2 separate regions of the Homo sapiens genome follow, and region 2 is linked to region 1. Evidence: fine-mapped expression QTL. A gene starts in region 1. The other region holds a variant in brackets. All regions are shown on one strand. Distances are from middle to middle.

Region 1 (12,659 bases):
TGAAAAGGCAATGAAATGGATTATCCCCTAGAGCCTCCAGAAGGAATACAGTTCTGCCAACACCTTGGTTTTAGCCCAGGGAGACCCATTTTGGACTTATTCCTGACTTCCAGAAATGTAAGATAATAAATTTGTATGGTTTTCAGCCATTAAATTTGTGGTAAGTTTTACAACAGCAATAGGAAACAAATGTACTGGATAATTCCTCCTGCCTACAAGAATGTAAGTTGGGACATTTATTCATAATAACAATAACAGCCAATAATAATTGCTCATATTAATTCAATGTCTACTTCATGCCCGGCTCTACTCTGAGTGCTTTTCATATAAAAACTCATTTAATTCTCATAAAGGCCATATGAAGAAGAGACTGTTATAATCCATACTTTACAGATGAGAAAAACTGAGGCTTTATGGGGTTAAGTAACTTGCCAGGGTCACAGAGCAGGTCAATGACACAGCACAGATTTGAACCCAGGCAGTCTGGCCCCAGATCTCACATTTAACCACTACGCTTCCCAAATCAACCTAACAATGATAATAAAATGACTGGAAGTTACTGAGAGCCCTCTGTGTACCAGGCTCATACCTAAGCTCATTACAAATACTCTCTCATTTCATTCTCACAGCACCCCAGTAGAGCAGAGATTATTAATCGTCCTTGTCTACAGCAGAAAAAACAGATGCAGCAACGTTAAACCCAGATGTTACAAGCATCTGAGACCAAAGCCCAGGTTTACCTGCACACCCTACTGCCTCCCTCATCCGTCTTGAGGCCCGGATGGCTGAGAAGACAAAGATAAGGAGCGCAACCACATAATTCACCTTCCAAACTGAGATACTTAGAAGGTGAAAGATATCATTATTACTAATTTCACTAGGAAAAGAGGCATAAACTAGAACTATTCCAGCAAACCAGGACATATGGCCACCCTAAAAATAAGGGGACTAAAATCAAGGCAAAAACTCTGCAGCTCAGGATTGCCCAGAAGGGGTGCCATGGAGCAGCTGCCAGCCCCGCAGGACATCTGCGGCTGCCAGGTCACGGTCAAGGCTGGAAGAAGAGGGGTGGTCCTGGCAGAGCTCAGAGCAGCATCTGCAAAGCTGCAGCCTGGGAGTCATTTGCAATGACAGGAACGCAGCAAGGATCAGCAGGGCCCGCTTCAGTGGGGCAGGTTTCAATTCTGAGCACTGCCTGTGCTTCCTTGGTCGTCTCCTCGCTGGCCCCGCTCACTCCTGGGGATGCCCAGGCCTGGGGGTGCCCGCAGTGGCAGGCGCTCACTCATTCCCTGCCACACGCTGCTCATTCATTAAAAGCCCCTGATTCCTCCCCGCTGTTCTAATTATGCACAGCAGTAATAAAGATGCTTTCTCCCTTACCAAAGAGGCCTATTTATATGAAAAGAGAGCATTTCGCCCCCACAAGATTGAGTCGTCACTCCAGGCCTTATTGGAATCAAAGCAGCTTCTCTTCTGAGATTGTCCAAGCCCTGCCTGACTCCCCTCCAGCTTGGCCCACTCCTGAGCATCCACATTTCCAGGAGCACCACTGCGGAGTGGGCAAGATGTAGACGCCATTGCCCTCTGCTGTGTTCCCTCATGTCTTGCTGACTGACACTCAACAAAAAGTAAGACATTTATTGAACACCTACTAGTGTCCTTAGTAAAAAAAAATGGAAATGAAAGACATAGTCCACGCCTTTCTCGGAAGAAAGAGCATTGAGAGAAACAGCACAAGATTTTAGGCTCCATGGCTGACTCATATCCCAACTCCAGCATTCACTGGTTGGGCAAGTTAGCAAGTTTTTCAAAGCCCTCAATTGCCTTATCAGCAAAATGGGGTAATAATAATGCCAGCCTCACAGGGTTGCTGGAGGAGTCAATGAGATACAGGCATACAAAGCTGGCATATCGTAGGGCCTCAACAAACACTAGTTGGAATTATCAACCATTAAGTACCGAAGGCTTTGGGACCACACAGGCAGATCTCATCCCGATGGATGAGCCCAGGAAGGCTTCCTGAGAGGTGATACCTTAACTGAGTTTTGAAGGATGAGTAGGACCTTGCTAAACAAAGAGAGGATGTCCCAAGCAGGGAGGACTGCATGTGTCCAGGGCCAAAGGCGATCACAAGGCTCTGGGAAACACAAGACACTGTGTAGGGACATACACAGAAGGCATGGGAGGACCACCAAGGCGGCAGACAAGTTGCAGCAGCAGATGTTGACACGGAAGTGGATCCCATAGCCAGAACCCTAACCTGCAATGCCCAGAGCATCACCCTGACCTTTGCTTACTTCCTTTGGGGGCTATAACCAGCGCCCTGTCACTACCATCTACAGCTTGGTGGCTGAAGGAAGTAGGGCAGCCACTCTCTATTAGCCGCAGGCCTACTCAACACAAGTCCCTGAGGGCCTATGACATGCCAGGCACATGCCAGGAGAGGCTGTTCAGCTTGACCACCTGGGGCCTGCATCCCATGGCCTAGGTCCTTACCTAGGCCCCCTTCCAGCTGTGCGCTGCTAGGACTGTCAGCTTTTTCCTCTGTGAAATGGGGATCACAGGGCGTCCTTCATAGTCATTCATTCAACAACAAACGTGGTCAGGGCTAAATGAGATAACTCAATATTCCCAGGTTTCAGCACACACTAAGTCCTCAATAAAAGTGAACGTTTAAAATGTTTATTTTTATTAAGATGAACCTCCAGGATGGCATCTCCAAAGCCCAATGCCAGGCCTCGAGAGATACCCTCAACCCAGGCAAAACTGCCTGCCCACCATCCCTCTCCTCAAGCCCGTGCCCTGGAAAAAATGACTTGGTTTCCACTCTTCATGTCTAGCCCTGACTTGGTCACCATAGGAGCCATCCCTGTCCGAACCACTCTGTCCACCCCCAATTCATCTCACCCTTCTAGGGCTCCATGTGTCAACCCACTCAGGTCATGCGGGAGGGGGCAGGATTGAAGGTCATCTCAAATTTTGCTGTCCAACACCCAGACCCTCAAGTGTGGCCCTTCAGATTTTGTAAATTAAGTAATTTAAACATCTTATTAAGAAAATTTGCAAACATACACAAAGTAAGCAGAATAGTAATGAACCGCCGCTCCCCATCACCCAACTACCACATTTTGCCATTCTTGTTTCATTGGCACGCACCTCTGCCCACTCCCCACCCCACCCCAACTGCACTTGTTGGAGAAGATTTCATGGCCAGCCTTTCTGACACCACCCCCCAACACCACCTACCCACCAGCAAACCCCTCCCCAACCCAGGACTGCCACTGCTCACAAATTCCAACAGTGTGATATTTGTGGCACCCATCCTTTTGTACCAAAAACATTCTGGAAATCCTTCCCAGGAAGCACAACCATTTTTTTATGTCCTTAATAGAGTGGTAACCACTGCACACATGCATAAGGGCTGTATGCACAGGTTGGTGCCCTGGAATCAGATGGCCTGGGTCCCAAACAACACTTCCCAGATGTGTGACCTTGGATAGGTCACTCAACCTGTGTTTGGATTTCCCACCCAGGAAGGGGAGAATGCTGGTAACAGGTTTGTTGTGAGCCTTTAAAACAATAAAATAATGCACGCTCTTTTCCCAGCAATGAGGAAACCTTAGAAATAAGTGTAGGGGCCAGGGGCAAGCCAACTCTGCTCCTATGCAATACTATTCACATCCTCCATTTTACAGATAAAGGGAGAGGTGCCCAGAGGCACAGTGAGCTGCCAGGGACAGCCCGCTCTTCAGGTTGGTCTCTGTCCTAAGTCCATGCACCTGGAATTCTCACTGGCCACCTTGAGCTGGAGATGACTGGAAGTGAAGAAACAAATACTCCAGAACAAACGCAGAAGAGCGGTGGCAGGTGGCTCGGCACACCAGGTATGGGTGTCCCCATCCTGGACAGGATTTCTCCCAGCACCGTGTGTGTGTGTGTGTGTGTGTGTGTGTGTGTGTGTGTCTGTGTGTGTGTGTGTGTGTGCGTGTGTGTGTGTGTTAGGATAGGGGTGCTGAATTTGATTTACAAGACAAAACAGTGTTGGGAAAGGTGTGGGGAGTGGGTACACATTCCTGCCCACTTCTGATTTGACAAATCCTATGCCCAACCTTGTATTTGGTATCATCGCCCACCCTATCCCAGCATGAGAGGCAAGAAACTGGCTCAGTAATTCTCAGGCTTTAGCAATTCAACGCCCCTACTTATCGTCCTAAAAATTTTTTTATTTTCTGACTTAAAGGAAAAAAGTAAAAAAAAAAAAAAAAAAAAAAAAAAGAGTCAATCCAGTTGCTGAGTGATGTTCAGACAAAGACAGCTGCCAGTCCATTGCCTGCGTTCACCAGCTGAGGAAGAGTACAGGCGGGGACTGGGTGTGTGTTTGGGGACGGCCTGGGCTCTCCGCTGCCTCTCCCTGGAGTGAGCCCTGTCAGGATCCCCCACCCGCCACCCTGCACTCCCCCACCACTGCAGTGCCGCGTGGGGAGGCACCTCCCTGATCCGCAGGAACAATGGGCTGGGGTGGGGGCAGGTGCGGCTTGGAGTGCAGCAGAGGGTGGGGGCCGCAGGCCCGACAGCAAGACAGGGAACCCAGCGCAGATGGTGGCTGTGCTGCCACTGGACTCAGTTTCTCCAGCTTTTGGGGCCCCGCAGAGCCAAGCGCTCGTTTCGTGGCTGAATCTCCCTTGCGTCCCGGCATTTTAATATCATCCTCGCAGGCGGCTTGCCTGTCGCTCCCGGGAAAGATGCCTGGGCCGCGCTCCTCTCCCCGGCGGCCGCTCTCGCCGAGGCCCTGCAGGTCAGGGACGCGCGGCGCCTCCATGCGCCCAACTTTCCCCACTTGGGACCCACAGGAAGACTGGAATCCTGGCCAGCCGGGCCCTCCGTGGGAGAAGCCTTGATTTACAGCCCTGGGCTCCGAAACCTGCTCGTCCTCTTCCCGCAACCCCCTTCCCCGTCCTCTCCGGCTCCCCCACCCTTCGGAGCCCTAATCACGCTCCCCAAAGAAAGCGGCCCTAGCACATCTGCAAAATGCGAGCGTCTGTCCTCCGCACTGGGTGCCTCCCCCTGCCCCCCGCAAGGAAGGGACCATCGAACCCCCGCCGCTTCACCCTTCCCCAGCCCAGTGAGTCCCTGGGGATGGGCGGGGAGGTGGGTGAGAAGCCCTTCGGCCGCAGCTGCAGCCCCCACTCCTGGCTCGAGCGTCCGGCCGGGGTGGGATGGGGCGAGGGAACAGGTCCAAATCTCCGATTTCCCCCAGGCTCCCACTCCTGCCTCGCTGAGTCACGAAAATTACCCGCTGGGGCCACCCGGCCACCCGGCGGCGGGCCCTTTACCCAGCCAGCGCCGGCCTCCGCAGCCCATCGCGCGGGGGCTGCACACGCGGGGCGGTCCTCACCCGCACGCGCGACCAGCCCCGCAGGAGGCGCCACCCGAGGCAGGGACCAACCAGGCGCCTCAGCGGGGGCTGCAGTCCCCGCCGCGGAGTCCGCACCCTGGCGGGGCGCAGAACATGTGACCCGCGGGCCGTCTCCGGTCCACCGGACCCCGGCCCCCGGCCCCGCTGCTGCTGACCCCGGCCCCGCCCGCCAGAACTGGATGCAGCGCGGGCGTCCCCACTTTTCCACGGCGCGCGAGGGGGTGCGGAGCGTTGGGCCAAGCGCGCCTCCTCCCTCCCTGCCCCGCCAGCCGCGGCCGCAGGACCCGCAGCCTGCGCTCACCTCGGGGCCCGTCGCTGCCGCCGGCCTCCTTGTCCGCCATGGTCGCGCAGCCCCGGACCGCGAGGGGAGCCTCCAGCGCAGCGCCCGTGCCCGTGCGGGTCTCTGTCCGCGTCCGCGGCGGCGCTCGGGCCGTGTCTGAGCCGCCGGGCAGCGGGAGCGCTGCTCTGACGCGGCAGCCGCCGCAGCCACGGCTCCTCCCCGGGCCCCGCCCCGGCCCGCCCGGCGCCCCGCCCCTCCGAGCTCGGGCCGGCCGGGAAAGGTCGGGGAAGGCGGGCGCGGGGAACTGCCTGGCTCCGGAGCTGCGCTCCCCGCCCGCCCAGAGCGGCCCGCCGAGGCCCGGCCTCTCCTCTCCCGGCTTCGGGACCGAGCGGTCGCCCCGCAGTCGACCGCGGCGGGGGTAGTGGCGCGCCCGGGGCTGCGCTGCGGGAGCGGATTTCAGGCCCTCGGGGCCCCGCGGCGCGTCCCCTCTTTGGAAGTCACCGAATGGCCAGGCCTGGAGCCCTTCAGCAAGCCCAGCGCGCCCGGCGCTCTCCCGAGGACGCCCGCGCCAGTCCCCACCAGCTTCTGTCTGTCCCCCAGGGTCCCAGGGGAGCGGCCCTGGGCCGGCGCAAAGGCGGGCTGGGTGGACCCCGGCGCGGGCAGGACCCAGGCCGCAGACCAAGGACCTGCGCGGGGGCCGAGCCCGGGGCACCGCCTCCAGGCCGCCTGCGGGACTCCATGGCAACTCCGGACCCAGGGAGGTGCTTGCCCCGGAGGCTGAGTCGCGCCTTCCATATATGGGATCCAGCTGGGCCCTCCTTAGAAGTCTGAGAATAACGATATTAATAATGCAAGGCTTCAGTTGTGAATGATTCATACTCCCTGTCCCCAGCTCCTCCACACACACGCGCCGCTGGCACCTGTTTGGGCCTGGCCAGGCACCCCCTGGGTCCGCGGTGTCACCACCCTGCCTTGGCAAACGAGGGCAGTAATAGGAATCCGAGGAGCACCGTCACTGGGTCGTTTCCGGGTGCCTGGCACTGTGCTACCTGCCTGGTGCTTTACCTCTATCTCCTTTCCTCCCCATAACTAACATTTTGCAGATAAGGAAGCTGAGGATCGGCAGGGTTACAATATCACACCCAGCAGGTGAGTCGCGGAGCTGGGATTCCCACCCAGCTGTAACCACCAGCATCCCTCACTTCCAGAGATGGGTGGCATTTCCCAAAGATCACCTAGGGGAGGCTTCATCGTACAATCCCGTTCTGGATGACGGAGTGGGCAGAGAGCTGCTGCGAGAGCGTTATGGATGACGGAATGGGCAGAGAGCTGCTGCGAGAGCCTGGAGACCAGAAGGTGATGGCAGAGTGACAAGTTCAAAACACAAAACTTGTCTTCTGTCTGCCTGCATTAAAAATCCCAAATGGACAGTTCCTGGCTGTGCATGAAACCACAGTCAAGTTATTTAACCTATCTGAGCCTCAATATTCTCATCTGCGAAATGGGTATAACAGGAGAACCCACTTCATAAAACTGAAGATTAGATAGACTATGCATGTAACATGCTTAGCTTGGGATCTAGCACATGGTAAAAATCATTAAGTCACTGATGGCCCCCGAGGGCCCTTCCTGCCTACGTGCCTGCGACAGCCTGCCCACAGCTCCCCCGCCCTCCTGTCTCACCCCTTCAGTCCATGCTTTGTGATCTGGTCTGTCCCCACCCTACTCCAGCTCCAGCTACAGCCGCTCTGATTCTTCAATCCCTCTCACCCACCCCTGCTTCTCTTATGCTGGTATTTCAAAGACATGAAAATGTGCTTGATGCCTGGATCACCCGTCCTCTCATTTCACCACCACCAGCAACCTAAGAACTTCTCCTTCTCATCATGGACTGCCCAACTCCAGGAAGGCTCCCCTGCATACCCATGCTGGCCAGGGGGGCCCTCCTCAGTGTCCTCAAGGCACTCGTTCCTCCCCATCAGACCAGGGCATCAGGACATTGGCCTTGACAGCCTGTCAGAAGCAGCAGAAACCCGTAGCCCCTGCACATCTGCCTCCTGCTGTGGAAGGGCCTTGGGCGCCACGTGCCCTCATGGGACTCCCAGCCACAGTGACATGAGGGTGCGTGAGAAGGATGGGAGGTGACATGCAGGCCCCAGTGCTGGGGGCAGAGAGCAGAACACTTTTGATTTGCAGGGGAGCATGAAAGGCAGCGCACACTCTGCCTGGGATTTGCCCTCACGGCCTTCATGCTCATCACACTAATTACAACGCGCCCTGCTGAGCACACCATCCAGCCCGCCAGCGAGGGGCTGTTGTGGTCTCACCTAGTTCTCATGGTGGCCCTTGCGGTTTTGCAGGAGAGGAAAAGGAAGCATTCAAAGGCTGAGGCACCTGTTCAGGCATCCTCTGGCCATCAGCAGCAAGGCTGGGGTTCAAGGCTCAGCACGCCACATCAAGGAAGGGTTCCCACCTTCCTCCCTGGAGTCTTCTTCCCCAATAGCAGCCAGAGAGAGAGCATGTCATTCTCCTGCTACCAGGTCCTACACAAATTGGCCTCCTGATGCCTCAGTGACCTCAGCTCCTTCCACTCTCCCATTCCCCCCAAAGCCCAAACACACACAGGCCCCACCTGGGGGGTCACTCCCCCGGACACATCCTTCAAGAGAATCAATCACGTGGCTTGCTCCTCCCAGAACACTCTATCTAAAACTGCTGCCTCGCCCCCACTGGGAAGTAAGTCCCAGGAGAGCAAGATCGTGGACTGTGTTGCCAGTTCTGCATCTCTGTGTCTAGAACAGCGCCTGGTACATGGCAGGCACTTAATAAATCCTTGATGCTTGACTGGCTGAATCAGTAAGTGAAGCGGGAACACAGCCCAGCACACAGACATTCTGCTGACCCCCAGGGCTCATGCCTTTCCACAGCCCCAGCTGTCTCAGGGCACGCCCAGACTCCTGGGAGGTTGCTCTGTACCAAGTTCCCTCAAGCTCCCCTCCAAAGACTCCTCCTCACAGTGCTCTCTGTGGGTACACTGCAGCACCCTCTATACCATCTCTTCTCCACCCTCCACACCCTCCACAGGCTGTAGACTGTGGTAGCTGGTGGAGAGAATGTTACACATCTCGGTTGGATACTCAAGTCCTAAAAAGTGGCCCAGCCCAGAGCCAAGTGACCACCTTCTAGTTCCCTTCCTGCTGGTCACTCCAGCTTCAAGGGCCTGCCCTCAGGTCCCCAAAGAGCCAGTGCCTCCACTGGAAGCCGATTCTCCTCTAGTTTTGCCAGGTAACCAACCCTGTCTCTTCCTACAGGCCTCAGCTTGGATGGCACTTCCTCCAGGACACCACCTAGCCCTCCAAGATCACATGAGGCCCCTCCTCTCTCCTCTGTGCCCAACCCCCCATCACTCCTATCTTAGCACTTATCACAACAACTCCAAGGTCAGTAGTATTGTTAACCCCATTGTACAGATGACCAAACTGAGATACAGAAAGGTCACTGAGCTCAGAAGCTGCAGTGCTGAGACTAGACCTCTGAGACCAGAACTCAGGTCTCTCCAGCTTCAGGTCACCCACCTCCCCCTCTAGCTGCCAGCTCTCCAAAGTGGGACCAGCCATGTCCACATTTAGAGCCCCCAGACCCTAGGATGGTGCCTGGCGCAGAGAGCAAAACATTGATGGAAAACAGCCTCCTCAGCTTCAGGCCTTTCTCATCCTCTCCGGGATCCCGTTCACCCACAGCCCCACACACGCTTCCCTGCCAACAGACTCCCTCTCTGCTCTTCAGCCCCCAAACAAACCCCCACCACATCCATTCATGCAAATAGAAGTCAGAGTCCAGAGGCAGGCCCAGCTAACTGCACCAGACAGCCAGGGCACTCTGTCACCTGCTATAACTACCAACTGTGGAAAGGGCTGGACATGATGCACAGCATGGGTAGGGGAGGCAGCTGAGTCCTCTGGCCCCCAGCTCAGAAGAAACTGAGGATAATTGTTGATGGACCAGATGCTAAGGGCAGTGAGCCCTGGGGGATGCATCAGGACCAAGAATGAGAAAAGTACAACAGGAGGAAGCAGAGAGCATGGGGTCAGCTGGACCAGGGCTCAAGTGGGCTCAGCTGCTCCCTGCCCACCTCAGGGGACCTGGGACATACCTCTCTGGGTCTGTTTCCTCACCTGTCAAAAGGGCCCAGTAATGATAGGTATCATAATTATAAGAGATCATATATGTAAAACATTCCATTTAGAGTCAGCCTATATATGCCACTGTTAATATGACTTATTTAATTTATATATTTGAACACAAAAATGCCATTTCCTTGTATATTATAAATTACAGAATGGATCCAGGCAAGATTTTCTTGGCTGATAAAGACACACAGAAGATATGAGTAGCTTTTTCCATTTTAATTTTTCTTTTATGTTTTTGTTAAGCTTAAGAAACACTGATATGAGTTCATATCTGAACTTTGACATAGGACACTGCCCGTCAAAGCTGCTTTGGACTTTAGGATATGCCAGCGGAACGTTGTCCATGAACTGAATATCATAAAAGAGACTAATTCATAACAGGACCAAGATTCAGATTTGCTAAAGCAACATAAAAACTTGCAGAGAAAACCTGGGCAAATGTCAGCCGCCTTGACCTCCAACTGTCAGTGCATTTTAAAAAGCCAGCCTTACAGCTGAATCATGGTGGCCAGTGTATACATCCTCCCCACCTCACTGGTCTTCCAGTCCATCTGGTGTGAATCGGTCTCTCCATTAACATTCCAAAACAACCTTCACATGTACAATGTGAGCTGCTGAGCCACTCTTTCAGGCAAAAATTCAAGGGCCAGAGGAAATTATTGCTCCAAATATCACCATCACTCAGGACTGCAATGTAAACTTTAGAAATGCCTTCTCAGGTAATGGAAGGTTATCCAAATATTTTTCGTAAGTATTTCAAATAGCAATGGCTCGTCTATGGTTAGTCTCGCAGCCACATTCTCAGAACTGCTCAAACCCTGGCCCTGCAAAGCTGCCGGTTCATTAATAAGACGGGACATCCCGGAAGCCACATCTCAAGGAGGACAATGCAAACTGAGACAAAGGTTCAGAGAAGAGAAACTGGCATGATCACGTGACCAGGAGAGTTTTCACAAGGGCTGCAACTCACCAGACACTATGAGAGCCAAGGGTTTCATGTTATGGAGAAAAACAACTTTCCTCTTCTCCAGCCCACAGCCCAGTGCCTGGCTTGCAGTAGGTACTCAGTAAATGTTTGTGGATGGAATGAATAAATGGTCCAGTAAATAAATAATGGAGGCTGGGCATGGTGGCTCATGCCTGTAATCGCAGCATTTGGGGAGGCCGAGACGGGTGGATCACTTGAGGTCAGGAGTTTGAGACCAGCCTGGCCAACATGGTGAAACCCCGTCTCTACTAAAAATACAAAAATTAGCTGGGCATGGTGGTGCGTGCCTGTAATCTCAGCTACTTGGGAGGCTGAGGCAGGAGAATTGCTTGAACCTGGGAAGTGGAGGTTGTAGTAAGCCAAGTTTGCACCACTGCACTCCAGCCTGGGCAACGAGAGCAAAACTCCATCTCAAAAAAATAAAAAATAAATAAATAATGAAGTAGAAACATGGGCTCAGAGATACTAAACCTCTTGTTCAAAGTCACACAATCAGTGACAGAGCTACGGTCAAACTCAGCCCCCTGACTCCCAGCCCAGCTTAACCCTTGACCCTTGTTGGCCTCTTCTGCAAAATACAAAGTGGAAGATAGCTTGTGCTAGCTGTGATTACTTGGTGATGACTCACTGGGGCATGTCTGCACAGTTGTGTTCTTCCTGGTAGCAAGCCCATGGTCACAGTATTTGCCTGGAGGAGAGGTACAGGCAGCATACAGCTGAGGAGAAGGAGACCAATGACCTAGAATAAGGGTGTTATCTGAGCCAGAGGGCTGAGAGCTTCAACAGCAGTGTCCAAGAGCAATGCTTGCACAAGTCTCCAAAAACCCCAGAGTTAGGAATGCACACTAAGTCACCATCCTCATTGCTACTCTTCTCAGGGAAACCAGCACTTTTCTCAGTGACTTCTGCAAGAGTGAGCCCAAATATTGTCTATCTTTGGGTCACTGGATGTGTTAGTCCATTTTCACACTGCTGACAAAGACATGCCTGAGACTGGGAAGAAAAAGAGGTTTGATGGACTCACAGTTCCACATGGCTGGGGAGGCTTCACAATCATGGCAGACAGTAAGAAGGAGCAAGTCACATCTTACATGGATGGCGGTGGGCAAAGAGAGAGAGCTTGTGCAAGGGAACTCCTCTTTATAAAACCATCAGATTTCATGAGACATATTCACTACACAAGAACAGCATGGGAAAGAGCTGCCCTCCTGATCCAATTACCTCCCACTAGGTCCCTCCCAAGACATGTGGGAATTGTGGGAGCTATAATTCAAGATGAGATTTGGGCGGGGACACAGCCAAACCATATCACTGGGTTCCTGGTGGCAGCCCTGTGGGAGCTGGGACCAGTCACTTGTCCCTGGGCCTCAGTCTCCTCATCTGCAGAGCAGACCCAGCTCCTCTCCCTTCCTCACCCCCTGCTGTCTGCTTTCCTACCTTGTGTCATCCCACTGATTCACCTTGAAGGGCAGCTCCTGAGAAGGACCCTCCCCACCCAACCTATGGTTCCATATATTATGCCACCCCATTTCTCCACGGCACTTTTATAAGAGCCAAGGGTTTCACGTTATAGAGAAAAATGACTTTCCCCTTCTCCAGCCCATAGCCCAGTGCCGAATGACTTTAAATGGCTTTAAAGTCATTTTGCAAATCTGTTTATGGTGAGCCTTCCTCACTTGCTGGGCTCTTCCTACCAGCAGTGGTGAGAATGAACATTTATCAAGCACCTGCTATGTGCTGGGCATTGCTCTGGGAACCTCACATCCATTGCCCCATTTATCTTCA
Region 2 (12,659 bases), 38 kb after region 1:
AAAGTGCTGGGATTACAGGCGTGAGCCACCGCGCCCGGCCGGCAAGGGCTTTTTTGAAATATTTGCCATAGAGCACTCTGCGAGGGTCCCAGGTGATACTGCACCAATGCCTAGTTCAGTCCCTGACCAGTGTGGTCCCTGACCAGCAGCATTAACAACTCTTGGGCACTTAATAGAAATGCAAATTCTCAGGCCCCAAGGCAGATCTACTGACCCAGAGACTCTGGGTAGGGCCCAGCAACTGCACATCTCACACTCTTGCCAAAGTGTGAGAACCCCTGGAATAAAGAAATGTCAATGGTGCTCTTGGGTCTCTTCACAGACGTGGCTCTGCTAGAGGACTGGCCTTTTGGAGCAGGAGTTCATGGCCCAGATCCATCTCTTAGGAGAAAGGATTGGAGAGTGGGACATTGAGAGGGAGGCCTTCTGTGCACCCCTTCATTCACCCACCAGAAAACCCAGGTCCACCATTGAATAAGCTCCTCCCCCAGTCCCATGCCTGCCCACGTGGCCCTGGCCTGACTCCACCCTGACCCTGCAGGCTGCACAAGCCTGGAGCCCTCCACCCTGGCCCCTGCAGGCCCCAGTCCTGCCGGCTCCTGCACCAGCCCCTCGTGTTGGCTATACTGCCATGGCATAGGTCCAGCTGGCATCCTGTCACTCCACTCCCTCCCCAAGGGCCCCAGGTCGACTGCTACACACCCACCGCCACTGCTCCCAACTGTGCTGCTTTGGGGGACTCCAGCATTCCTTTGCTCCCTCCCGCCCATCCTGTGGCTGTCTCTGCTGAGTCACTCTTTATTAGTGTCCTCCCAGACACCTGGCACAGGTGCCCCCAAGGGATTGGGCCAGAAGCCAATAGCAGCAATTGCTGCCATTTACCAAGTGCTGATTCTGTACTAAGAACGTGCGAGTTCCTTATATCAGTTATCCCACCACTCACAAACCTATGGATAGGGCCTCAGGACTCCCATTTTACAGATGGATGAATTGAGACTCAGGAAGGAAAGATCCCAGGGTCACACAGGGCCACATAGCCAGTGAGACGGGAGCCTGGGATTTGAACTCCTGCCTGTCCGGTTGCAAAGCCAGCTCTCTCTGTCACCCCACACTGTCTCTTCTAGAGAGCCCTGGGGAGGACGGGGGCCAGCCAGTGGGCAGCCTGGGAAGGGAGTCTCTGTAGCTGGAAATGGCCAATGTATTTTCTAGAAACAGGAAATCTAACATTGACCGTGAAGTTTGTTTCCTGGTCAGTTCTGTCTGTTCCCACTGACAGCCTCGTGATACTGACTTTCAGGGCACCCGATGAGAGGGGATGGAAGAAGGACCTCCCGCCTCTCCCCACAGGAGTGCTGGGTGAGCCCTGACTTTCCTCAGTGCTCGGATGCTGGGAAGGTGCTGGGGCCATTTCATTTGCTTGCTAAAGGAAACACTCAGGCCAGGGGGCCAGAGGATTTGGGGACATCAGGGCACAGAAGTAACAGGGGGCTTTCAAGCCCTTTCCCAACTCCTCCCCGAGACAGTGACCTGGCCTAATCCTGCAGCCCCTATGACCTCTCTGTCCCTGGGGTCTTGTGAGGGCTCCTGCAGCTGGGGAGCTATGCCTTCTACTGTGGTCCCCAGCCTGGCACAGACTCTCTTATGTGACTCCACCAGGGACTAGACTGGGGGCAGCTGAGTGCCATAAAAGAAGTTAATGTGGCCTCACGTTGGTGGTGAGTGAGGGGCTTTGGGTCTACCTGCCATCCTCTGCGTCCCCTCTGGCCTCCAGTTAAGTGACCCATCCCATTGGTCTCTGTCCACTGAGCTGACTGCCCCCCAGTACCCAAGACAAGTGCCACTGCTCCTGGTTCCCAGGTCCCTGTTTTGGGTGACCACCTCACCCCCTCCCTGCCTCAGCACCTCTGTGGCCCACCCCTGGGACTCCTGTGGGACACAGGCAGGTGTCATGGGTGGACAACAAGGAGCATCTCAGGTCCGTCCGCCTGGACGCCCCCCTCTGCCTCGGGATTTCGCTCAAAGCAGCCTCCAGCTCTTGGCCGCTTCCTCCCGCTGGTCTCACCCCCAACAAACCTCTCCCAGGCAAAGCATAGTGCTTTCTCCTCTGCCTTCCTGTCTCCCAGGAACTCACTTCCATTGTATCCAGAATTCCTTCTATTTATGGCTTACAGTAAAACTCTACGCTCAAAATCAGCCGGGATTGATTCCTTATATTTAGAAAGAAGCTTTGGAATTCAGAAAATTTTTTTTTTCTTAACAAAACCCGGCATTCAAGACTATTGTTTTGCCTAGAAGACAAAACAAAATGGAAAGCCTAATTTGATCGTCAAAGTGAACAACGAATTTATTATTGTAGCAGAATCCACCGCTTCCCTGAAGTACTCAAGCCATTGATTCAGTGGATGCCACAGAGCATCAAAATATAAGAGCAATTAAAAATACATGAGTTTTATTTTCTTAATTGTTAACTCCATATACAATGCTTAAAACTCTAAAAACTGGGCTTAATGTAATCTTAATTAGAATCATAAACACTATTTCAGAATGTATTTTAGATGTATATCCTTAAAAGTTTGATGCAAATATGATAATTTAGGGATGTGAGGCATCATATAAGATGCTTAATGTCTGTACCAGGAATCTGGACTAGGTTCGAGAATGGGAGATATTGACAACCTGGACTTGGTTCAAGTTTGCTTTTAATTTGATTTACTGCAGAAGCATCAAGGAAGCAATGCACAGGGGAAGGAGGTTGTAAGAAAGCTCCTGGGTGGACCATGGCTCCTGTGTAGCCCGCTGAATTGTTCTCTGACATGAGTAGTGTGAGACGCCAGCCAGGCTGGAGGGGCGCTGAGCTGCAGATGCGCCCCTTTTCTTCCCTGCCTCGTCAACACCCGGGTGTTAAGTTCTTGCCGCGTGGCACTGGGTGGTCCCCCCACATCTGAGGCTGCACTGCAGTCTCCCATTTATGCCCCTTGGGAACTTTACATGGACAGCTCAGGCATGGCCTGTCACACTGACAAGCAACCAAAATAATCTAAATAATAAAAGAAATGACTTAAAACAGTATCTTTTAGAATAATTATTGCTATGAGTTTCTTTGCAAATTCTGCAGTTTTCAAACATTAGTCCTCAGGTGGACGGAGCCACAGAGCAGCTGCTGCTGGCCTCTTCCTCCTCCTTCCTGCCCCACCTGGTGCCTCCACCCTCACACCCAGTTCCCAAGAGCCTGCCACTCAGGCCTCCTCGTGCCCAGACCAGACAGGGACATGTGTGGACTTCCCAGGTGTACATATCCCCACCATGGCTGATTTTCAGCTACCCACATGATGTCACCGAATACGGAGTTGTAAAGAGACGCACGCCACTACGTTTCCATCCCAGAGCTGCAACAGACACAAATAAGCTTAAGTGCATCGACAATAGTCAGATCAGATGCACAAAAACAATTAGAAAATGCTGAGTTTGTTTTGTTTTGAGACGGAGTCTCACTCTGTCACCCAGGCTGGAGTACAGTGGCGCAATCTCAGCTCACTGCAATCTCCACCTCCTGGGTTCAAGCGATTCTCCTGTGTCAGCCTCCCAAGGAGCTGGGATTACAGGCATGTGCCAACATGCCCAGCTAATTTTTGTATTTTTAGTAGAGACGGAGTTTCACCATGTTGGCTGGGCTGGTCTCAAACTCCTGACCTCATGATCCGCCCGCCTCAACCTCCCAAAGTGCTGGGATTACAGACACGAGCCACTGCACCCAGCCTGTTATTTAACTCTTAATAATGGCTGTGCTTAACAACTGGCCCACAAAATCCCTGCAAATTTAACAACTGGTTCTCAGGAGGAGCCGCACATCATTGGGGGGGCCTTGGTTGGCCACAGCAGCTTGGGAAAGGGGAGGTACATGCCCTGACACTAGTCCCAAGATGGTTACTTGACATTTCCAAGCAATATATTATTTAAATATGCATATGTTTTTGCTGATTGCTAGTAGGTTTTTTCTTTCATGAATGCACTTAATTTTGCCCAATGCAGTTAATTCACCAAAGGATGACTGGGCACTGACTATTCCCCCCAAAACCTCCAGCTGGTGCTCTAACAGCCGACCTTACACAGAAAGGTCAGAGAAGGAAGCAGTTCTTCAAAGCAGGCAGAATCGCCCTGACACGGATGGGGAGATGAGGGTGGCACACCTCAGGGCTGTGGTCCCTCCCTCAGAGAGAACCACATTGCTCCTGAAGGAGCTCAGGCTCCTTCAAAAGGAGCTGCACTTTGGCTGAAGCTTTGTGTAGTCATTCCTGTCAGCACATTCCCCATAATTCCCACAACCCAAGCCTGGCTTCATCAGAAAGTCCAGGCTGGGCATGGAGGCTCAAGCCTATAAATCCCAGCATGTTGGGAGGCCAAGGCAGGAGGATCGCTTGAGCCCAAAACTTTGAGAACAGTGTGGTGGGCAACATGGTGAGACCAGCTTGGATGGCATGATGGGACCCGCTATGAAAAATAAAACAAAATAAAATAAATTAGCTGGGCATGGTAGCATGTGCCTATGGTCCTAGCTACTCAGAAGGCTGAGGCAGGAGGATCGCTAGAGCCCAGGACGCTGAGGCTGCAGTGAGCTGTGACTGCACCATTGCACTCGCAGTGGGGAGATGGAACGACCCTGTCTCAAAACAACAACAACAACAAACCCAGAAACAGAAAGAAGTCCATGGCAGAGTGGAAGGGTCTGTCTGCCCTTGGGTCACACAGGTCTTTAATCCTGATGCCTGATATAGGTCAGTTAGCTCCTTTCAAGTTAGGCAACAAAACATCCTTCTTTGATTCTCCAACCAAGTGCCATCACTCAAGGCACGTGGTTTCCAAGCCCTCCAGGGCCTTCATCGGCAGTTGCTTCCCTTCGCAACATCGTGAGCGACACATCGTGGCTGAACTCCAAGGGGGACATGTGGGTGTAATGAGTCACTGCCAACACGGAAGGTCCAGTGCAAGCTAGATCGAAGCTGATCC[G/A]GGTGCCCACCCCAAACACAAGAGTAGCAGGGAGGGGAGACAAGCACCTACTGAGGAGACCAGGGCCAGTGGGGCCTGGGTGAATCTTCAATGGGGACAGAATCACCCTGACACGGTTGGGGAGATGAGGGTGGGGCACCTCAGGGCTGTGGCCCCTCCCTCAGAGAGAACCACATCGCACTCCTGCTCTGCTGGACTCGGGTGTGGCCACGTGACTCTGCCTGATGAGACATGAGGGCAGTGACACTCTGCCTGGTCAGTATATTCTGTCCCTTTGCCAGGAGACAGGGAAGGTTGCAGGTGGAGGCTACTCTGTCAGCCCCAGGCCCGAACAAAGACAACAGGAACAGTGTTGCTGCCAGCCCGCGATGGAATCTGGGGGTCATTTGCTCCCAAGCTTTGCTATGTCTATCCTGATTGACACCCAGGCAGGTGGGAGAGGTGAAGGAAGTTCCAGAAACCGAATAACGCTGGGCATGTTGGGGAATGGCACGAAGCCCAATGTGAAGGGAAAACAGGGTGGGTGTGTGTAAAGAGGAGCTAGCAGGGGGGACGGGATTCCTAAGGGCTTGGAGCTCTGAGTGCACTCCGTCCCCGCACCCCGACTCCATGTGGGCCCATGGCACCACTCCCTAGGGGACTGCAGCCACCCTTCCCCTAGAACATGGACAAGGGCTGGCCGGCCCTGAAGGAGCTTCGACCTACCTAGAGGAGGCAGGCACCCAGGCCAGCCACGAGTCAGAGACCACTAATTCCGCCAGAGCAAGCTGTTTGGGCACTGCGTCCTTCTCACGCGAAGGGCAAAGATCCCGTTCATCCACAGGGACTGCCCAGCAACAAGGAACAGCAGTCACTCCCTGCATAGCTGCAGGGCACTGTCGCAGACCATCTCCTCCATCCTCCACCATACCTGGAGCTAGTCTAAGATCACAAGAGTTGGTGTGTCTTCCCTGTAGGAAGAGGGCTCTCCCTTGAGTCCAATTCTTAACCTTCCTGTTTCATGGACTCTTCGGTCACCTGAGGAAATCTATAGAGCCCTCCTCAGAACAATATTTTTATTTATTTTTATTTTATTATATAATAATTATTATTATTTTGAGACAAGGTCTCTCTCTGTCACCCAGGCTGGAGTGCAGAGGTGCAGTCACCACTCACTGCAGCCTCCACCTCCCACACTCGAGTGATCCTCCCACCTCAGCCTCCTGAGTGGCTGGGAGCACAGGTACGCACCACCACACCCAGCTAATTTTTTGATTTATTTTATTTTATTTTATTTTATTTTATTTTTCGTAGATATGGTGTCTACCTATGTTACCCAGACTGGAAAATAATGTTTTTAAATGCATAAAATAAACCAGGTAGGATTACCAGGGAACCTAATTATTTGTTAATACGATTATCAAATCCTTTTAAAAATTATGATGCGTGCTTCTTCATTAAAACATTGAATAACAAGGATCTAGTAGAATTATATAACAATCATAATTTTTAAGTGGATATTTCAAAATATCTACAAGCAAAGTAATAGGATGTAAAACTCTCTGTGATTTCTATGGGTGACGAGTCACAGGCATTGCTAACATTGTTTGGTTTGTCCTCTACATTTATAACTGAAAGTAATGCTACATTTCAGCCAGAGATTAATGAAAATAAGGACATAAACTTTTGCCTATTCAAGTTCACTGACCCTTTCACTCCTAGCCCCATCCTGGCTGGGTGCAGTGATTCATGCCTGTAATCTCAGCACTTTGGGAGGCCAAGGTGAGAGGGTCGCTTGAGGCCAGGAGTTCAAAAATTTTATGTTGCCTTGGCATCCATTTTGAGACTAAGTGTTACCTAGTGAGACCCCTGTCTCTACAAAAAAGAAACTTTTTAAAATTAGCCTGGCATGGTGGCACATGCCTGTAGTCCCAGCTACTTGGGAGGTTGAGCCAGGAAGATCTCTTGAGCCCAGGAGGCCGAGGGTGCAGTGAAACTTGCACTGCAGCCTGGGCAATAGAGTGAGACCCTGCCTCTTAAAAGAAAACAGAAAAAAAAAAATGGATTTCCTCTGGATTCACTCTCTCTACTCCCCAATCAGTGCCAATGATGATGATGATGATGATGATGAATGCCGCTCGGTCAGGCCTCAGTGATTTCACCCTGTACATTCTCAGATGGTCCTCTGGCTCTCTAGTTTACCCCTGGGGGAAGCACTTGTCTCAATGAAATGTTGCAATAAAAACTGAAGGGGAGGAGTGGGGAGGGGTGGTGCAGGAGCCCCACAGCCCTGGGTCCAAGGTGAGGCCAAGGGCAGCCTCTGCCACAGCCTGTGTCGGTTTCTCAGGAAGCCTTTTTCTCTGCCCATCCGTGGTGTGGTGATTGCTTAATTGTCGCTAAAAGGATCAAATTCAAAGCACTCGGCCTCTCTCCTTCATTCTCTTGCCTCACTCCAGTTTTTAATCAATCTCTCAGCTGTCAGCTACACCGAGTGCCTGAGGGTCTGCTGTGGGCTCTGCCTTTTCTGAGGTTGGGTAGGGGGTGTCCTCCTTGGGTCCAGCTATTCAATCTGACTCAACAAACAAAGCATTTCTTAAAACAAGTCTTCAAACATGCAAACAGTAAAGGAGAAGACTGATTCATTCTACCAGGTTAAAATTAAGATCATAACATTCATCAAAAGACAGTAAAAAGGAAGTCTCAAACTGGGAGATAATATTCCTTACACCTGTGAGTGACAAAGGGCTAGTATCCAGGATGCATAAAAACTCCTACAAGTCAATTTCAAAAAACAACCCAATACAAAAATGAGGGAGAACAATGGTCAGGCATGTCACAAAAGAGGCCCACAAGAAGGGCAAAGAGACGTTCGCAGAGATGCTCAACCTCAGCTGTGACCAAGAAAACACAAAGTGAGACCATAAGATGAGATTTTGTGCTCACTAGATGGACAAAACTCAGAAATGTGACTATCCCAAGGGTTGGTGAGGAAGTGGGTGAGCACCGGGGATCTTTACACAAAGCTAGAAAGAGGCTTATTCGACTGTTTTGGAAATTTGGCAATCTCTGAAAAGCTGAAGATACGTGAGCTTTGACACAGCAACCCCACTAGCATAGCCTAGTGCCTGTGCCCAAGCCTGCGTATATGACAAGGCTGATAGCAGCGCTTTTTGTAACAACCAAAATCGGGAGAGGGAGTTGTCCTTTGACTGAAGAATGGATAAATAAATTGTGGCATAGTCCCGGGTGGAACATTACCTAACATTGCAAAGGAATGAACTACAGGTACACCCAGCAACAAGGATGATGCTTAGAGTTGTAATGTGGAGCAAAAGAAAAAGCAAGTCACAAAAAAATGCCTCCTGTGTGACACTATTGTCATAAAAACCAAGCAAAACTAAACAGACTATTCAGGTAGGGCTCATAGACATGCTATCAACTGCTTTTTAAAAACAAGGGAATAAATGAGATGCTATTCAGGGTAGGGGCTGCCTGGTCAGGGAAGAGGACAGGATCACCAAGGCTTGTGCAAGTAGATTCACAGGTGCCAACAATGTTCTACGTCTTAAGCTGGGTGGTGGACTCTCAGTTTCAACAAAATCGCTGAGTAGACACTGAGACTGACTCCCAGGCCTGATGCCTGGCAACATACCAAGCCCAGGACACAGGGTCACCCTCACGGAGGGTACTGGAAGCCTTAGAAGTAACCTCAGAGAGGCAGAGAACATGGTGGGCCCCAAGGCGAAAGAAGGGAAATGACAAATGTCTCCTGCCACTCAGATGCCAGGTCTCTCCACAGCCTTTCCCACGTAATCCACACAGGCAATGTGTTAAACAGATACCAATCACGTCCAGCGCACAGATGGGCAAACTGAGGCTCTGAAAGACTAAGCTGTTTCTCCAGGAAGTGCCAATGGGAAGGGCTGGGGCTGAGACACCTCCAGTCCAGGTCCCTCTTTCCACACCATCGACGTGGTGCTGTGGGGATCAGGAGAGGCTTTGATGAGGAGGTGACGTTGGAGACATGTCTGGAAGAATTTGGAGGAGTCAGTGGCAGAGGAGCCTGGATGGCAGAAGGTGGCCTGTGCCCTGGCAAAGTGTGCAGCAGTATGGCTCGGGGCACAGTGAGTGGGAAGAGGGACAGAGCCTGACTCATGTGGCCCAGGGTCTGCCCACGATTATTGACTGTCAAGCACTGAATGAATGAGCGTGTGGGTGGACTTGGCTGGAGCACAGGCTGCACACGGACAAAGAGCTACAGCCGTCAACTGCAGCAGCTGCAACAGTCCTGACCCACCGTCCCCACCCCAGTCCACTCTCTCCCGCTAGCCAGGGTGAGTTTTGTAACACATAAACTGGGGCACATTCTTGCCCAGATCCAAATCCTCCAATGTTGTCTGTGATATAGTCTTAAGTGGGGGGAAAAAAGAGCAAGGAACAGAATGGTGTGTTAGTATACCACCATTTATGGGTATTTTTTGAGACAGAGTCTCACTCTCTTGCCCAGGCTGGAGTGCAATGGCTCACTGCAACCTCTGCCTCCCAGGTTCAAGCGATTCTCCTGCCTCAGCTTCCCGAGTAGCTGGGACTACAGGCATGTGCCACCACGCCCAGCTACTTTTTTGTATTTTTAGTAGAGACAGGGTTTCACCATGTTGGCCAGTACGGTCTTGAACTCTTGACCTCCAGTGATCCACCCACCTCAGCTTCCCAAAGTGCTAGGATTACAGGTATGAGCCACCATGCCCAGCCCATTTATGGTTTTTAAAATTACATAATTACATCTATTTTTTTCTTATGTATCCAAAAGATCTCACTGGAAGGACACATCAGGACCTGGTTGCAGTGTTGACCTCTTAGGGAACCAGATGGCTAAGTGGGACAGCCATGACTGGCCATGTGCTTGCCAATCCCATTTCCTCTTCCTGGACACACAAAAGTCACATTTCCCAGCTTCCCTTGTGGCTAGGCTGGGGCCTTGTGACTTGCTCTGGCCAATGGGCAGTGGCTGGGGTGATGCATGTCTCTCCAAGGCAGGCCGCTCCTGACCTAGGTGGCCCCTTGCCCTGCAAGTGGCAGCGCAGGGTCTTTGAGCACTTTCCAAAGTCCATTGCCTGATTTCTCTGTTCTGCAGAGCATTTTTCACATCCTGGTCACTTTCTCGTTTATTGGTTTATCTTCCTATTAGCGTGTAAGCTCCACTAGAGCAAGAAGTTCATCTGTCCTGTTCATTTCAGTAAGCCTAGCACTTAGAGTGGTACCTGGACTCTGTAGGTGCTCAATAAAGGTTTGTTGAGGGAATGAATGAATGAATGAATGGATGAGTGCAGGAATGAGTGAATGCCTTTAAGATTGGCTTATGATTGACATTTATGAAGTTGTCTGCCTAGCGTCCCTTTAGCAAGAGTTGCTCCTTCCCGTTCCCTCCACGTGTTGCCCTTGCAGTTGGGGACTTGTGCTTCCGGCCCCAGCTGACTGGCTGAGGAATGAGTCCCTGGCTGAGCTGGGTCAATGAATCCCTTCCCTGGGATCTTTGGACTAGATGGGATAAATAGAAATCAACATAGACAGAGCCTCTCCGTCTGGGGTTGAGCCTGTAACGCTAACCTCGGAGCTGTCAGTCTGGGCTGGAGATGCTGAGGGCACGTGTCTACAACAGCAGACAGGGAGGCAGCTGCTCCTAGGCAGGAGCCAACAGGAGAAACCAGAGAGGCCCCAGTCCTGCTGGTTCTAGGCCCTGCTGTGTTCCTCTTTTCTTGGCATCATGAAGCACCTCAGGCCCTAATAACAAGTTGAGGACCAACAAGAGGCTCTGGAGCTTGGATTCCAGAGGAGACATTTCCCAGCCTTTGGGAGGGGCGTCCTGGAAACCCTCATTGTGCCCTGCTCTGAGATGGCTTTGGGGCTTGACCCCTGCATGTCCACTCTCAGATTCCTTTCCTCCCCCTCCCACCCACCGCCACCATCATTCAAATGTCCAAAGCCTCAGGTAGTGGGAAGGAGGAGTATGAATTCTGGAACACAGGCAAGGACTGATGTCTTGTTCGGGAACGTTCTGGCCACCACAGCCTAGTGCTGCTGTGGAGGAAGGAGGAACGGCCCCGACCCAGGCCTGCCAGTGGACATGGCAGCCCGGGGACAGAGATCAAGATGTGGGAGCTGAGAGCAGTCCTGGCCACCAGCAGAGCATGGCATCAGGGCATTGTGACAGAAATGTTCTTGCCTGACCCCAGCCCCAGGACGGCTGTCCCCCACCCAGATCCCCGCCTGCCTCCCTGGTTCTCCCTCTAAGCCTCCACCTCAATGCAGGGGTCAGCAGGTGCCCACTCATAAAGCCCAGCTCACTCCCCAGCCTTGGGGGAACGCACACTCGGGCTCTGCTGCCCACCGCATGCTGCTGTTCATGATCCCTCTCTCTTCCTCTCGGACAGACACACACACACTACCCCAAATATCCACCTGCCCTCTGAGCACTGGCATCTGCTGTCACCCCCTCCCTCCCAGGGAATGGTCTCAGCCATCCACCGGTTATCCCAGCCAGAAGCCAGGCACCCACTTGACTCTGCCTTTCCCCGCTGAGCCCTCCTGCCCCACTGCCCTAATACCGCAAGATTCCTCCTATTTCCCCCCCTCCCCTCACCTTAGACTGCAGGCCCACCCCATGGCCTACTCAGACTCTGCCTGAGTGGTCTAGCATCCTCCCCTGCTTACATCTCTTTGTGGCCCTGGGAGACATCCCGACTCCTGCACCCGTCATGAGGCCTTTGCTGATCTAACGCCCACCTGTGCACTGGGAATCTTTGTAGCTTCATGAGGTTCACCTATGAGGTTAGCGCCAGAGAAGCCCCACGTGGAGCCTCTCGGGTAATTACGCAGGAGATGGAGCGGGTTCTGCAGAAGAGACTCTCAGCAAATCTCAGCAGTGGGGTTGCATGGAAGGCAGGGCTCCCAGGGGCTGAGACACAGTGGTAAATACTTCTTAAAATAGACTGTTTATGTTATGGATCAAACTGAATTCCTAAGTTTAACTATATTTTTGGTAATTTGGTGGGGAAACAGGCTGCGCAGAACAACTCCGCCTTGCCCCTAGCCTGGGCTCAGGACTCTAGGGAGGTCTAGGGAGCAGCTCCAGGGCCTATGGCCCCTCAGGTAGAGGCACAGGTGCGTGTGTGCACATTTTCCTGAAAAAAAAAGAAAAAAAAGATCTAGTGCTTTTGTCAGAATCTCAAAGGGATCCATGATCTAAGAAATGTCTAAAGCATTGTTCTCACAGAAAAATGTTCGTTCTCATTTATAATTCAAGAAATGTACATTTAAATGGTATATTTTTCTCATCTGTCTCAGTGGCGTTCATCTGTAGCTGCCTATTAGAATCTCCTGGGGAATTATTTATTTATTTATTTATTGAGACAGAGTCTGGCTCTGTCACCCAGGCTGAAGTGCAGTGGCTCAATCTTGGCTCGCTGCAACCTCTGCCTCCCAGGTTCAAGCAATTCTCATGCCTCAGCCTCCTGAGTAGCTGGGATTACAGGTGCCCACCACCACGTCCAGCTAATTTTTGTATTTTTAGTAGAGACAGAGTTTTGCCATGTTGGCCAGACTGGTCTCGAACTCCTGACCTCAGGTGATCCACCTGCGTCAGCCTCTCATAGTGCTGGGATTACAGGTAGGAGCCA

Direction of the effects. Positions count from the first base shown, and alleles are read on the strand shown. Sizes are in standard deviations (SD) of each study's normalised expression.
With allele G in place of A in region 2, the expression in lung of the gene that starts at base 5,854 in region 1 is higher (small effect, 0.17 SD a copy in GTEx).

Evidence for each region. PIP is the estimated chance that this variant, and not a neighbour inherited with it, causes the effect.
Region 2: its variant is fine-mapped to the expression of HSPA12A in lung (TOPMed, PIP 0.98). The same link has a PIP of 0.9 or more in fibroblasts.

What each region holds. Positions count from the first base shown.
Region 1 is chr10:116,736,713-116,749,371 of GRCh38, forward strand. It overlaps HSPA12A (heat shock protein family A (Hsp70) member 12A), which reads right to left and starts at 5,854. Exons shown (of 12, transcript NM_025015.3): 1 at 5,718-5,854. The coding sequence starts at 5,757. RefSeq lists enhancers at 5,719-6,423, 6,424-7,127 and a silencer at 5,719-6,168.
Region 2 is chr10:116,774,269-116,786,927 of GRCh38, forward strand. It overlaps a transcript of HSPA12A not described here. Among named protein-coding and RNA genes, the nearest start is that of HSPA12A, 38 kb to the left of the region's middle. RefSeq lists enhancers at 608-1,107, 4,427-5,626 and a silencer at 10,530-10,696. The variant G/A (reference allele first, on the strand shown) is at 5,005.